Linked DNA regions of Homo sapiens. The protein of the gene in region 1 interacts with the protein of each later gene in a biochemical or structural test. Each region holds a gene or a part of one and is shown in the gene's direction. Other genes may lie near its edges.

Region 1 (7,019 bases):
AGAGCTCCCATTGGCGGCAGAGCAAGACCAGCGCGAGCAGCTCCAGGTCAAGAATGTGGAGAGCAGGAGGCCTGAGTGGGCAGCGCCAGCCCACCCACGCCAGCCTGCCCACCCTGTCACAGCCCATCAGCTCCTTCTGACCCCCTGCTGTATGTAAAGCACCATGCTAGGGGTCGGGATGGGCATGGAGCACCCACTGTTCCCACTCCGAGCGGGCAGACCCGGCAGAGATTATTTTTCTCCTGGCAAAAGAGGCAAGTGCCATCCAGGGCCTCCAGCAGCGTCCATGGTGGAAACTGGAGCTGACCCCCTTAGGCCAGGGCTCCAGGAGCCGCCAACCCCCAGAGGGCTTGAGGGTTGCTGAGTGCAGCTGGGGAAGCCAGGCTGTGTGCTCCTTCTGCAGGATGAGGGTGGGAAGCGGCTGGAGGCTGTGCACGGGGAGCTGGTGCTGGACATGGAGCACGGTACCCTCTTCAGCGTCTCCCAGTACTGTGGCCAGCCAGGACTTGGCTACTTCTGTCTGGAAGCTGAAAAGGCAACACTCTACCACCGAGGTGTGAGGCCTGGGGGCAGGTCACCACTGGGGTCCAGGGTTGGGGGTGGAGGGCTTTCAGGACGGATGTGGGCCCTGGGTGGAGTGGGTAGCCAGTTGGCTTGGCAGGGGGCTCATGAGACCCCTCCCCAGCGGCCGTGGATGACTACCCGCTGCCCAGTCACCTGGACCTTCCCAGTTTCGCTCCCCCGGCTCAGCTGGCCCCAACCATCTACCCATCGGAGGAAGGGGTGACCGAGCGGGGAGCCTCGGGCCGCAAGGGCCAGGGCCGGGGACCCCACATGTTGTCCACTGCTGTGCGCATCCACCTGGACCCCCACAAGAATGTGAAGGTATGGGCTTGCCTACCATCCACCCCTCCTGCTAGCCTGGGCTGCAGCCCCGGTGTGCGGTGGGACCCCAGTGCGCGGTGAGGCCCCAGTGCACGGTGGGGCTGGCCTCCCCACTGCCCTGACTGCGCCCCCACCCTCAGGAGTTCCTGGTGACACTGCGGTTGCACAAAGCCACCTTGCGCCACTACATGGCCCTGCCCGAGCAGAGCTGGCATTCCCAGGTGAGCGTGGGTGGTGGGAAGCCACATGGCCCAGTGACTCTGGACTTCTGTTTTGGGCAAGCAGGTCTCTAGGTGGGAGGAGGCCGGTGGGAGGAACATGGACTGGGCCACAGCTGACCTTGTCCGGAGCTCCTGGGCAAGGGGTGTGGCAGACAGCTAGTGGGCAGAAGGTGAGGTGCCAGGCAGGGGCCAGGACAGGGAGGGGTTAGAGGAGGGAGGACACCACCTGATCCTCACTGCTTCCTCCTGCCCTGGCCTCTGAAGTTGTTGGAGTTCCTAGACGTGCTGGATGACCCTGTGCTGGGCTACCTGCCCCCGACGGTCATCACCATCCTGCACACACACCTGTTCTCCTGCTCTGTGGACTATAGGTACCAGGCTGGGTGGGCCAGGGGCTGGGGACGGGGATGGGCTCTCAGGTGTAAGGAGCCGGCCCCAGCCCGAGTATCACCCCCAGGCCACTCTACCTCCCAGTGCGTGTCCTCATCACCGCGGAGACCTTCACTCTCTCCAGCAACATCATCATGGACACCTCCACCTTCCTGCTCAGGTATGCAGGCCGCCCCACACTGGGCCATCCCACCCTCGCCGGGCCGAAGCTGCCTGCCAGCTGTGTGTCCTCTGGTGCTCTCGGTCTTAATGTACACCCGGGTGATAGTCTCATTCTCAGGAATGTGGATTGTTTCCGCCTTTCTAGAGGGCAGTTGGAGCCTCCTGATGAGACCCTTATAAGCATTTGTGCTCTCTGACCTGTAATCTCATGTCTGAGGGTTGTCCTAGGATATGCGAATAAGAGAGGTGGGATTTAATGCTTATGGAGTATAAGTTAAAACAGCCAAAACGTATCAGTTAAATCACAAGCCTCACAACCTGAGCAAATAAGCATGGCCCACCTAGTAGGTAGAAAACCATGCAGGGATTAAGGTGAAGCTGAAGAATCCCTTCAAAATATAAGAAGATGGAGGGTGCGGTGGCTCACACCTGTAATCCCAGCACTTTGGGAGGCTGAGGCAGGCAGATCACAAGGTCAGGAGTTCGAGACCAGCCTGGCCAATATGGTGAAACCCCGTCTCTACTAAAAATACAAAAATGAGCCGGGGGTGGTGGCAGGCGCCTGTAGTCCCAGCTACTTGGGAGGCTGAGGCAGGAGAATCACTTGAATCTGGGAGGCGGAGGTTACGGTGAGCGAAGATTGCGCCACTGCACTCCAGCCTGGGTGACAGAGCGAGACTCCGTCTCAAATAAATACATAGATAGATAGATAGATAGATAGATAGATAGATAGATAGATAGATAAAAAATATAGAAAGATGCCACAGTACAGTGTTTACTCAAATAACATTGGATACAGGACTGCGTACGTTTTAAAATCAGTTTATGAAGGGGTGTTTATATGTCTCGGCGTGCAGCTGCAGAGAAAGTTTGGAAGGAGATGTGTATGGTGGTTTTCTCAGAATTAGGGATTAGGAATGATGAATGATTTTTATTTTCTTTATTCTAAAATATCTTAAAGGAGTTTTCATTATGTTACCCTTAAAATAAAGACTTTTTTATTTATTTTTTTTTTTTGAGACAGAGTCTCGCTCTGTCAGCAGGCTGGAGTGCAGTGGCGCAATCTCAGCCGACTGCAACCTCTGCCTCCTGGGTTCAAGCGATTCTCCTGCCTCAGCCTCCCAAGTAGCTGGGACAACAGGCACCCACCACCACACCCAGCTAAGTTTTGTATTTTTAGTAGAGACAGGGTTTCACCTTGTTGGTCAGGCTGGTCTCGAACTCCTGACCTCGTGATCCGCCTGCCTTGGCCTCCAAAAGTGCTGGGATTATAGGCATGAGCCACCATGCCCAGCCCTTATTATTATTTCTTTTTGAGATGGAGTCTCACTCTGTCGCCCAGGCTAGAGTGCAGTGGTGTGATCTAGGCTCGCTGCAACCCCTGCCTCCCTAGTTCAAGAGATTCTCCTGCCTCAGCCTTCCAAGTAGCTGGGATTACAGGCACCCGCCACCATGCTCGGCTAATATTTGTATTTTTAGTAGACATGGGGTTTCACCACGTTGGCCAGGCTGGTCTCAAACTCCTGATATCAGGTGATCCGCCTGCCTCAGCCTCTCCAAGTGCTGGGATTACAGGCGTGAGCCACCGCGCCAGCCAAAAATAAGGACTTATTTTAGAAGAACCACAAATGCAGCAGGGAGAAAAATGGACACCCCTTCCCAGGACTGTCATGAGGCCCCATTGAGGTGTCGGAACTGCAGGCACTTTGAGAGCTGCAAGTGCTGCCCGCTTCCCACTGCCTGCTGTCTGGGCCTTCTCCCCATTGTGCAGGCAGGAACGCTGAGGCTGGAGGGGCCTGTCCATACCACCTCCTGTGGGCTTGGGACCCCTCTGCTCGGCTCCCGTGGAGCTGCCCCCTGCAGCGGTGCCCGGGCCCTTCTCAGCCCTGTTCCCCCCCAGGTTCATCCTCGATGACTCCGCCTTGTACCTGTCCGACAAGTGTGAGGTGGAGACCCTGGACCTGCGGCGAGGTGGGCAGGGCCGGGACTGGGCTCCCTCCCCTCTGAGGGACCACCGCCCCGGCCACACCCAGAGCAGCCAGGTGTCTCCCCGCAGCTGCTGGCCGGGTCCTTAGCTCCCACACGTAGCCCGCACAGCAGGGACTACACCTGGATCAACCGGATCCTTCCCCCAGGTGCTGGGGCCGGGGCCGGGTGGAAGGGGGCCACAGGACCTTTCTCTCGCCTCTGCTGCAGATTATGTCTGTGTTTTGGATGTTGACCTCTTGGAACTTGTGATTAAAACCTGGAAAGGGAGCACCGAGGGCAAACTGGTGAGTGAGGCTGTCACTCTGGCTCCTGGAGCCACAGCAGGTGCAGGGGCCAAGGGAGTCTTCAGGGGCTGCTGCTCCCTCACGTGCCTGGGCTCCGGACACAGTTCATGCCTGCCCTTCCTGGGCTGCAGTTAGCGCCCCTCCTGCAAAGGGCCATAGTACAGCCCTGGTGGGGGTGTCCCTTGATGCTGGCTGAATGAATGAATGGGTTTCAGCCCTGCCACCAGAGGACGCGGCAGCCAGGGCACCAGCGAGGCCCTGGGAATCAGCCACCTTTGTAGGTCCCCGGATTCATCTCCTGTAAGATGGAGATAACCTGCCCTGCCTCGCTAGGCATGCAGAGCCCTTCACGGGGAGTGGGGTAGGGTGGGTGGGCACACTCCTGCTTCCTTGGATGGCCCTGGGCCAAGCCCCTTTCACCCTCTGGGTGAACAGTTTGTTCATCTGTTCAGTGGAGTTACTGGGCAGGTCATCCACTCCAGGAGAGACCATCCCTGTTCTGCCTGTGGCAGGATCAGAACTGCGGTGCCCTCCCAGCGAGCGGGTGGGGCCAGCAGGCAGTGGCCCCTGTGTTCACATAGCTGCTCCCCCCACCCCGCCCCTGCAGAGCCAGCCACTATTCGAGCTGCGCTGCTCCAACAATGTGGTACACGTGCACAGCTGTGCCGACTCCTGTGCCCTGCTGGTCAACCTGCTCCAGTACGTAATGAGCACAGGCGATCTGCACCCCCCACCCCGGCCCCCCAGCCCCACGGAGATCGCCGGCCAGAAGGTACAGGTGAGGCCTGGCCACACAGGCTACCAGAGCTCGGCCAGGCCCCTCCCCTGCCATGGCCCTCGGGCCTGGGGTTGGGGGAGCTCTGTCCTGTCTCACTCATTGCTCCTCCCCTGCCTGGCCCAGCTCTCGGAGAGTCCTGCCTCTCTGCCCTCGTGCCCCCCAGTGGAGACGGCCCTCATCAACCAGCGTGACCTGGCCGACGCCCTCCTGGACACCGAGCGCAGCCTACGGGAGCTGGCCCAGCCTTCAGGTGAAGTGGGGGTGCTGTGGGGACAGCAGACACAGTCAGGCACCCACTGTGGGCGCCTCTCCAAACTGGCCTCTCTCCTATAGGTGGCCACCTCCCTCAGGCGTCGCCCATCTCCGTCTACCTATTCCCAGGTGAACGGAGTGGGGCCCCACCCCCTTCACCACCTGTCGGGGGCCCTGCTGGCAGCTTAGGGTCATGCTCAGAGGAGAAGGAAGATGAAAGGGAAGAGGAGGGCGATGGAGACACCCTGGACAGTGATGAGTTCTGCATCCTTGATGCTCCCGGCCTGGGCATCCCGGTGCGTGGTGGGAGGGATGGACCAGTTTGCCGTCCAGGCAGGTGTGTTTGGAGCGGGGACGGAACACTCAGGGGTGGTTGCCTGGCCATCTGGAGCTCCCGTGGTGAGAGAAGCAGGCAGGAGGTGGTTGCCATCACCTCGGGGGTGGTGCTAGGTCTGTGCCACCCTAGGGAGGCAGCCCTGATGCTGGGCTTTGATGGAGTAGGGGGATTTCCAGAGGAAGAGGAGGCCTGGTGTTTTGGGCAGAGGGACTGGGAAATTCAAGGGATGGAGGAAGAGGAGAGGGCAGTTAGCAAGAGGGATGGAGAACCATGTGGCTGCAAGGGCCAGTGGGAATGTCTGAACTCACCCAGGTCTTAGGAGGCAGGGCTGGCAGGAGCCTGGCATTCTCAGGCTCCTCTTGGACAGACCACTCAGGCATAGACTCGGGTGATAGCAACCCAGGAGTGTCATCTTTCATCAAAAACAGGGAGGAGGCCAAGCATGGTAGGTTACGCCTGTAATCCCAGCAATTTGGGAGGTCAAGGTGGGAGAATTGCTTGAGTCCAGCAATGAGAGATTAGCCTGAGCAACATAGTGAGACCCCGTCTCTACAAAAAATAAAAATAAAATTAGCCAGATATGGTGGCACATGTCTGCAGTCCCTGCTACTCAGGAGGCTGAGAATGGAGGATCGCTTGAGCCTAGGAGGCAGAGGTTGCAGTGAACTGTGATTGTGCCACTGCACTCCAGCCTGGGTGACCGAACATGACCCGACCCTGTCTATAAAAAAAAAAAAATGAAAAAGAAGTGAGGCCAGGTTGCTGGGGCTGGGGGCAGCTGGGCTGGATCGAACATCTGTGTCACACGTCTACCTGGCCTCCCTGCAGCCCCGAGATGGGGAGCCTGTGGTGACACAGCTGCATCCCGGCCCCATCGTTGTGAGGGACGGTTACTTCTCACGGCCGATCGGCAGCACGGACTTGCTGCGGGCACCTGCCCATTTCCCAGTGCCCAGCACTCGGGTGGTGCTACGTGAGGTCTCCCTCGTCTGGCACCTCTATGGGGGCCGAGACTTTGGCCCCCACCCCGGCCACAGGTGAGGAGGAGCGGGTGCAGGTGGCAGCTGGTGAAGGTTGGGGCTCAGGCTGGTCCAGGTCTGACTTTCAGCAGCTGGAGACCTTGAGCCCCATCCACCCCAGGTGGGCCTCAGTTTCCTCATCCTTCCTTATCCCGCCTGCCTTCCAGGACTGGGGCTAGCGGGGGTCTCTTGTCCCAGGCTAAAAGGCCCGCTGAGGACGGGGAGGGAATGGGGTTCCTCTGAGTCAGCTTGGCCCCTGTCCCTCTTCCCAGGGCAAGAACTGGCCTCTCAGGTCCCAGGAGCTCCCCTTCCCGCTGCTCTGGCCCCAACCGGCCCCAGAACTCATGGCGCACGCAGGGGGGCAGCGGGCGGCAGCACCATGTCCTCATGGAGATCCAGCTGAGCAAGGTGAGTGGGGTGGCGAGTGCCTACTACACGTGTGTGTCATAGAACAACGGGCCTTGTTCTCGATGTCACGTGTAGCAATGACTAATGCAGAGGAAAACCCCTGCCTTTGTAGTGGAGGAAGCCAGGCAGGGACCAAGATGTATCGAGTGTGTCCGATGGTGAAGAGCGCTCAGGGGAGAGTCTGCAGGGGTGGAGGAGACAGGTGTGCTGGGGAGGGTCTGGAAAGTCCTCTTCTGAAGGCACCATTTGAACAAAGACCTGAACAAGTGGGGATGTGAGCCAGGAAGAGTTTTC
Region 2 (7,853 bases), on another chromosome or scaffold:
CCCCGGCTCACTGTCCTCTGTGGGGTCTGTCCCCACTGCTCACTGTCCTCTGTGGTGTCTGTAACCCTCGCTCGCTGTCCTCTGTGGGGTCTGTCCCCGCTGCTCACTGTCCTCTGTGGGGTCTGTCCCCCCGGCTCACTGTCCTCCGTGGGGTCTGTCCCCCCGGCTGGCTGTCCTCTGTGGGGTCTGTGCCCCCCAGCTCACTGTCCTCGGTGGGGTCTGTCCCCGCTGCTCACTGTCCTCTGTGCGGTCTGTCCCCCCGGCTTGCTGTCCTCCATGGGGTCTGTCTTGCCGGCTCGCTGTCCTCTGTGGGGTCTGTGACCCCAGCTTGCTGTCCTCTGTGGGGTCTGTCCCCGCTGCTCACTGTCCTCTGTGGGGTCTGTGCCCCCTGGCTCGCTGTCCTCTATGGGGTCTGTGCCCCCTGGCTCGCTGTCCTCTGTGGGGTCTGTCTCCCCGGCTCTCTGTCCTCTGTGGGGTCTGTGCCCCCTGACTCGCTGTCCTCTGTGGGGTCTGTGCCCCCTGGCTCGCTGTCCTCTGTGGGATCTGTCTCCCTGGCTCGCTGTCCTCCATGGTGTCTCTCCCCCCGGCTCGCTGTCCTCTGTGGGGTCTGTCCCCGCTGCTCACTGTTCTCCATGGGGTCTGTCTCCCCGGCTCTCTGTTCTCTGTAGGGTCTGTGTCCCCCGGCTCGCTGTCCTCCATGGGGTCTGTCCCCGCGGCTCGCTGTCCTCCGTGGGGTCTGTCCCCGCGGCTCGCTGTCCTCTGTGGGGTCTGTCCCCCTGGCTTGCTGTCCTCTGTGGGTTCTGTCCCCCTGGCTCACTGTCCTCTGTGGGGTCTGTCCCCCTGGCTCGCTGTCCTCCGTGGGGTCTGTGCCCCCCGGCTCACTGTCCTTGGTGGGGTCTATCCCCACTGCTCACTGTCCTCTGGGCAGTCTGACCCCCTGGCTTGCTATCCTCCATGGGGTCTGTCCCCCCGGCTCGCTGTCCTCTGTGTGGTCTGTGCCCCCCGGCTCGCTGTCCTCTGTGGGGTCTGTCCCCGCTCCTCACTGTCCTCCGTGGGGTCTGTGCCCTCCGGCTCGCTGTCCTCGGTGGGGTCTGTCCCGGCTGCTCACTGTCCTCTGTGCGGTCTGTCCCCCCGGCTTGCTGTCCTCCATGGGATCTGTGCCCCCAGCTCACTGTCCTCTGTGGGGTCTGTGACCCTGGCTCGCTGTCCTCTGTGGGGTCTGTGCCACTCGCTCGCTGTCCTCTGTGGGATCTGTGACCCCTGGCTCACTGTTCTCTGTGGGATCTGTCTCCCCGGCTCGCTGTCCTCCATGGTGTCTCTCCCCCCGGCTCGCTGTCCTCTGTGGGGTCTGTCCCAGCTGCTCACTGTCCTCCGTGGGGTCTGTCTCCCCGGCTCTCTGTCCTCTGTAGGGTCTGTGCCCCCCGGCTCACTGTCCTCCGTGGGGTCTGTCTCCCTGGCTCTCTGTCCTACATGGGTTCTGTCCCCACGGCTCGCTGTCCTCTGTGGGTTCTGTCCCCCTGGCTTGCTGTCCTCCGTGGGGTCTGTGGCCCCTGGCTCACTGTCCTTGGTGGGGTCTATCCACACTGCTCAATGTCCTCTGGGCAGTCTGACCCCCTGGCTTGCTATCCTCCATGGGGTCTGTCCCCCCGGCTCGCTGTCCTCTGTGTGGTCTGTGCCCCCCGGCTCGCTGTCCTCTGTGGGGTCTGTCCCCGCTCCTCACTGTCCTCCGTGGGGTCTGTGCCCCCCGGCTCGCTGTCCTCGGTGGGGTCTGTCCCGGCTGCTCACTGTCCTCTGTGCGGTCTGTCCCCCTGGCTTGCTGTCCTCCATGGGATCTGTGCCCCCAGCTCACTGTCCTCTGTGGGGTCTGTCCCCCTGGCTTGCTGTCCTCTGTGGGGTCTGTCCCCCTGGCTTGCTGTCCTCTGTGGGGTCTGTCCCCCTGGCTTGCTGTCCTCTGTGGGGTCTGTCCCCGCTGCTCACTGTCCTCTGTGGGGTCTGTGCCCCCAGCTGGCTGTCCTCGGTGGGGTCTGTCCCCGCTGCTCACTGTCCTCTGTGCGGTCTGTCCCCCCGGCTTGCTGTCCTCCATGGGATCTGTCTCCCCAGCTCACTGTCCTCTGTGGGGTCTGTCTCCCTGGCTCACTGTCCTACATGGGGTCTGTCCCCGTGGCTCGCTGTCCTCTGTGGGGTCTGTCCCCCTGGCTTGCTGTCCTCTGTGGGGTCTGTCCCCGTGGCTTGCTGTCCACTGTGGGGTCTGTCCCCCGGGCTTGCTGTCCTCTGTGGGGTCTGTCCCCGCTGCTCACTGTCCTCTGTGGGATCTGTCTCCCCAGCTCGCTGTCCTCTGTGGGGTCTGTGCTCCTCGCTCGCTGTCCTCTGTGGGGTCTGTGCCCCCTGGCTCACTGTCCTCTGTGGGGTCTGTCCCCGCTGCTCACTGTCCTCTGTGGGGTCTGTCCCCCTGGCTCGCTGTCCTCCGTGGGGTCTGTACCCCCGACTCGCTGTCCTCTGCGGGGTCTGTGCCCGACTCGCTGTCCTCGGTGGGGTCTATCCCTGCTGCTCACTGTCCTCTGTGGGGTCTGTGCCCGCTGCTCACTGTCCTCCGTGGGGTCCGTGCCCCCCGGCTCGCTGTCCTCTGTGGAGTCTCTGCCCCCTGGCTCGCTGTCCTCTGTGGGGTCTGTCTCCCTGGCTCGCTGTCCTCCGTGGGGTCTGTCCCCGCTGCTAATTGTCCTCCGTGGGGCCTGTGTCCCCTGGCTCGCTGTCCTCCATGGGGTCTGTCCACCTGGCTCGCTGTCCTCCGTGGGGTCTGTGCCCGCTGCTCGCTGTCCTCCATGGGGTCTGTCCCCCTGGCTCGCTGTCCTCCGTGGGGTCTTTCCCTGCTGCTTGCTGTCCTGCGTGGGGTCTGTCCCCTCGGCTCGCTGTCCTCCGCGGGGTCTGTCCCCGCTGCTCACTGTCCTCCGTGGGGTCTGTCCCCGCTGCTCGCTGTCCTCCGTGTGGTCTGTACCCCCGGCTCGCTGTCCTCCGTGGGGTCTGTCCCCGCTGCTTGCTGTCCTCCGTGGGGTCTCTTCCCCCGGCTCGCTGTCCTCCATGGGGTCTGTCCCCCGGTTTGCTGTCCTCTGTGGGGTCTGTCCCCGCTGCTCGCTGTCCTCCGTGTGGTCTGTCCCCCCGGCTCGCTGTCCTCCGTGGGGTCTGTCCCCCTTGCTCACTGTCCTCTGTGGAGTCTGTACCTCCAGCTTACTGTCCTCCGTGGCGTCTGTCCCCGCTGCTCATTGTCCTCCGTGGGGTCTGTCCCCCTGGCTCACTGTCCTCTGTGGAGTCTGTCCCCGCTGCTCGTTGTCCTCTGTGGGGTCTGTCTCCCTGGCTTGCTCACATTTTCTCTAATTTGGATGTATTACTTTTTCCAATCATCCTTTCCAGCTCTTGGTGCACAGTTTCGACCTGAAGTCTTCAGTCTTCTCAAAGTTCTTCAGTGTTTTCTTTTTTCTCTCACAGACTCTCCACCTTTCTGTTCTGAAATCCTGACAGATGAACGTGTTGTCTCCAGGCTCAAGGCTCAAGGCCGCTGAGCGATTCCCCTCTTCTCCTCTCTAAGATCTGTGGTCCTTCCTGGATTTGATATTCCAGGTTTTACCAATGTGACTTGGCGACATCATTTCTGTTTGTTGGCACTTTCATTTGGGTTTTGTTTTTAACTGGGAATTGTGTTTTTAATGTACAGGGTTGTCTTTCTGTGTTTCTATTTCCTTCCTTGGTAACTTTGACTTTTCTTTCTTTCTTTTTTTTTTTTTTGAGATGGAGTCTCCCTCTGTTGCCCAGGCTGGAATGCAGTGGTGCAATCTTGGCTCACTGCAGCCTCGACCTCCCAGGTTCAAACGATTCTCATGCCTCAGCCTCCCGAGTAGCTGGGATTAGAGGCATGTGCCACCATGCCCTGCTAATCTTTGTATTTTTAGTAGAGACAGGGTTTCGCCGTGTTGCCCAGGCTGGTCTGGAACTCCTGACCTCAGGTGATAGGCACGCCTCGGCTTCCCACAGTGCTGGGATTACAGGCGTGAGCCCCCGCGCCCGGCCAAAGAACCATGGTCCTGTTTCATAACTGTGAGTCTCTCGGGTCTCCCAGAGACATTCTTGTGTGACTCAAGCCCCAGGGTCCTGTGGCCCCGCATCCGCCTGGTGTCACATTTAGAGGACCAGGGAGGAGCCACCAAAGGCAGCGCAGAGCCACTGTATCATGGACGTTCACGACTGCAAGAACGAAGAATTGTTAACTATTTCTCAATGTCTCTCTTCTCAAAGAAATACATTTAATATCAACTTCATTTTCTGAAGGTTTTTTCCCAAAGAGACAACAAGGACTTTGAGCGAGGCATAACGTGGCGAAGCTTCCTAACCCTCCTCTGTAGAGACCGCCCAGCCCCTCAAGATCAACCCCCCACCCCGTAGCGGCCGTTGAGTGTCTTTCACTGCCGCTCTGTGACACCACGTCCCTCCCACCCCTGCCGCCCTCCCCACCTGACTGGCCAGGAGCAGCCGCAGCGTGTTCAGAACCTCCCAGCCACTGTCCACCCGGGCGGAGACCCCAGCCCCGCGTGGCTGGACGGGCTTCCCTGTCCTGTGGAAGGGGAGACACACAGGACCCTGTGAAGTGAGCTCTCGGGTCCTGCTCCTCTGGGAAGCTCAGAGAAGCCTCTCAGGGAGGATCTGGCAGGTTTCAGTGTTGCACCAGTGAGTAACGGCTCACGAGCTCTTCAGGCATTGCCTCAGTTTCTCACAGGCGCAGCCCTCTGCTCAGTGTGGCCTCTTTCTGACGTGGGTTTTCTTCTTGCACCTGGGGAGTCCTGGGTGGGCCTGTGTATTCGTGAACGGGTTGTGGGACCTGTCGCTGTGTGGGGGCTGTCGAGCACTCCCCAGAACGTAACAAATCCTCAGGGGAACTGATGGGCGGTCGCGCGGGCACTGGGTCCTCCACACCCTGGAGAGCCGTTTTCCGTTGCCACTCGGCTCTGGCCGGGGTCACATTCTGCAGCATGTCTGTTCATTCCCCTGGGCGGGGCCCTGCACCGACTCCAGCCCAGCCCCTGCTCCCTCTGCGGGGAACGTGGCCCCAGGCAGTGCTGGGCCATTGGCTGTCAGTGCTGGTCCTGGCGGCTGCATTCCCAGTCCCCTTGGTCTCTGTGACAGTGGGCGGGGCCGGCCCTCCCAGGATCTGACGGCGCAGGTCCTCCCCTTCTGTGTCCTGCAGATGGACACCCGCTCCGGGAGCCAGTGTTCCGTCACCCCAGAAGCCATACTCAATAATGAAAAGCTGGTCTTGCCGCCCCGCATCTCCAGAGTGAACGGCTGGTCGTTACCCCTGCACTACTTCCAGGTGGTGACCTGGGCTGTCTTCGTGGGCCTTTCCTCGGCCACCTTCGGGATCTTCATTCCCTTCCTGCCTCACGCGTGGAAATACATTGCCTACGTGGTATCCTTTTCATCGTGGCATGGTCTAAGCGGGAGGGGTTCCTGGAGGAACTTGCGATGGACCTGGCTGTGGGGTCTGGGCCATGGCTGCCCGGTGGCACCAGTCACCTGCCCTGGGCCAGACTATGTCCCCTGAGCCTGCAGGTGGGCCCAGTGGCCACTCATGCTCTGTGCAGCCCCTGCTTAGGGTCAGGACAGGACAGCGTTGGCTGAGGGGGCTCCGGAGAGGGAATCTGTCAGGAGGGACAGCAGCCCCCTGGCGTGGCGCAGGACCCGCCCTGCTGGCAGCCTTCCGCTAAAATCCCTGCGCAGCATTTTGCACATGGCCAGCACCTTTCTCCTTGCCCCTGGTGCCAAGGAGGAACAGCGCCATGCCCCGCAGGTCGGCAGCCTGCGTTTCCATGCCAAGCTTAGGCCACACTGCGAGGGCCTCTGGGCTGCCCTGCGGAGATGGCTGTCAACCCTGAACTCCTGGCTAGAAGGCGGTCCAGGGGCCAGGCAGGGTGACTGGAGGGCCCCGCACTCCACCCCTTCTATTTGGTTGCCATGGAGAGTCTGTGTTTGTCCCAGGGTGAGAGGAGGAGGGAGCCAGGATCTGAGGGCGGGAGCTGACGTCCCAGGCACGGGGAGCCCAGCTTCTCCTGGCTCCAGGGGACAAGGATCCTCTCCCCAGTGCCCCCGCAGCCAGGCTCTGAGCCCAGAGGGCCCAAGAAAGAGGCCCAGGGTCCCTGAGTGAGTCTGGGGTCCTCGAGAGAGTCTGGAGTCCCCGAGAGAGTCCGGAGGGGCCCTGAGGGAGTCTGAGGGGGGTTTCCCTGAGCTATTCTCGGGGAGAGGGTCCCTGAGTGAGCTGTCTGGGGTCTACAGGGAGCGGGTAGGTTGTGCAGCTCCCTCGCTCCTCCCCCTGCTCCTCCTGTCTGAGGCTGTCTTCTCTCCCAGTGCTCAGGGGTCTCTGGTATGAAAGAACCCAGGCTCCTCCAGGGCCTTTGGGGCTGCATCCGGCTGTGTTTATACCTGGGATGTCCCTCCTGTGGCCCTGCTCTGTCCCTCAAGCTGTAAAGGGTTTTGGGGTCACTGTGCTTGGCTGGGCTGACTGAGCCTCTGGGGGTGCGGTACATTCTGTGGGGGATTTGCCCTGTGTCCAACAGGGATGAACCAAAAGGGGCACGGGGGCAGCCTTCCCGGTCCCCGACTGGCACAGGGCTGTGTATGCAGGGCCAATGGGTAGCCTCATCTTCTCTAGGCCTGGGTAAGCAGGGCTGTGTGTGCAGGGCCGACGGGTGGACTCATCTCCTCTAGATCTGGGTGAGCAGGGCTGTGTGTGCAGGGCCATGTGTGAAGGGCCGGGTGTATAGGGCCGTGTGTGCAAGACTGGATGAGCAGGGCCATGTGAGCAGGGCCGGGCATGGGTGAGCTGGGCTCGGGTGAGCAGGGCTGGGTGTGCAGGGCTGGCTGTGCAGGGCTGGCTGTGCAGGGCTGGGTGTGCAGGCCCAGGTGAGCACGCCCAGGTGAGCAGGGCCAGGCGAACAGGGCTCAGTTGTGCAGGGCTGGGTGTGCAGGGCTGTGTGAGCAGGGCCAGGCCTGGGTGAGCTGGGCTCACGTGTGCAGGGCTGGGTGAGCAGGGCTGACCAGCGGCCACGCCTCTTCTGGGCCCTTGGGCCTCACGGGGACGCCTCGTGCCAGGCTGACCAGGCCCTGGGCCAGGTTCTTCCTTGACATGCCAGGTGACCGGGGGGATCTTCTCGTTCCACCTCGTCGTCCACCTGATCGCGTCCTGCATCGACCCGGCCGACTCCAATGTCAGACTCATGAAGAACTATTCTCAGCCCATGCCCCTCTTCGACAGATCAAAACATGCACACGTGATCCAGAATCAGTTCTGCCACCTGTGCAAGGTCACCGTGTGAGTGCCCGCCCTCGCCGAGGCCCCAAGGTGTCAGGGTCACCTCCAGGGTCCTGGTGCTCAGGTCACTGCTGGCCCCTCAGGGCCCGTGCCATGGCCGCAGCTGATGCTAGTGGAGCTTCCAGGGCCCGGCCCTGTGGCTGCGGGTGGATCGCCCCTCATCTCGCTGTGAACCGGGCGCGGTGCCGGGCCGCCCCAACTCCTCCGCAGGCAGGGCTGAGACTGGAGGGCTGGGTCTGTCACCTGCAGGTGACCCGCTGCTCCCCTGGAATGAAACACAGCAGCACTCAGGCATGTTTGGTCCTCAGTGGATTTTGTGCACGAGGTCCCTCCCCTGAGGGCCCAGGGCAAGAGAGCACTGTCTTTCTTGGGGAGTTTCAAGACAAGCCCCTAGGAAAGTGGGAGGTAAGGGTTCCAGTGTCTCCAGGGGCCCTGGAGGCCTCTGTGATGGCCTAGGGGTTGGCTACAGGGCTGTTGTCAGCTGCAAGGGAGGCCCTGTAGG

What was found.
Region 2: the proteins of ATG2A (region 1) and ZDHHC11 form a complex in vitro, tested with the Homo sapiens proteins (one study listed by BioGRID).

Annotation. Positions count from the first base shown.
Region 1 is NC_000011.10:64,900,200-64,907,218, reverse strand, and holds part of ATG2A (autophagy-related protein 2 homolog A), read left to right. Parts: intron 1-403; coding exon 404-554; intron 555-685; coding exon 686-885; intron 886-1,025; coding exon 1,026-1,106; intron 1,107-1,370; coding exon 1,371-1,477; intron 1,478-1,563; coding exon 1,564-1,656; intron 1,657-3,542; exon of another isoform or gene 3,543-3,558; coding exon 3,559-3,629; intron 3,630-3,854; coding exon 3,855-3,931; intron 3,932-4,538; coding exon 4,539-4,703; coding exon of another isoform or gene 4,704-4,709; intron 4,710-4,763; exon of another isoform or gene 4,764-4,832; coding exon 4,833-4,959; intron 4,960-5,042; coding exon 5,043-5,257; intron 5,258-6,126; coding exon 6,127-6,335; intron 6,336-6,589; coding exon 6,590-6,725; intron 6,726-7,019. UniProt on the Homo sapiens protein: Lipid transfer protein involved in autophagosome assembly. Tethers the edge of the isolation membrane (IM) to the endoplasmic reticulum (ER) and mediates direct lipid transfer from ER to IM for IM expansion.
Region 2 is NC_000005.10:847,980-855,832, reverse strand, and holds the start of ZDHHC11 (palmitoyltransferase ZDHHC11), read left to right. Parts: upstream 1-4,846; 5' UTR 4,847-5,230; coding exon 5,231-5,452; intron 5,453-7,172; coding exon 7,173-7,351; intron 7,352-7,853. UniProt on the Homo sapiens protein: Endoplasmic reticulum-localized palmitoyltransferase that could catalyze the addition of palmitate onto various protein substrates and be involved in a variety of cellular processes.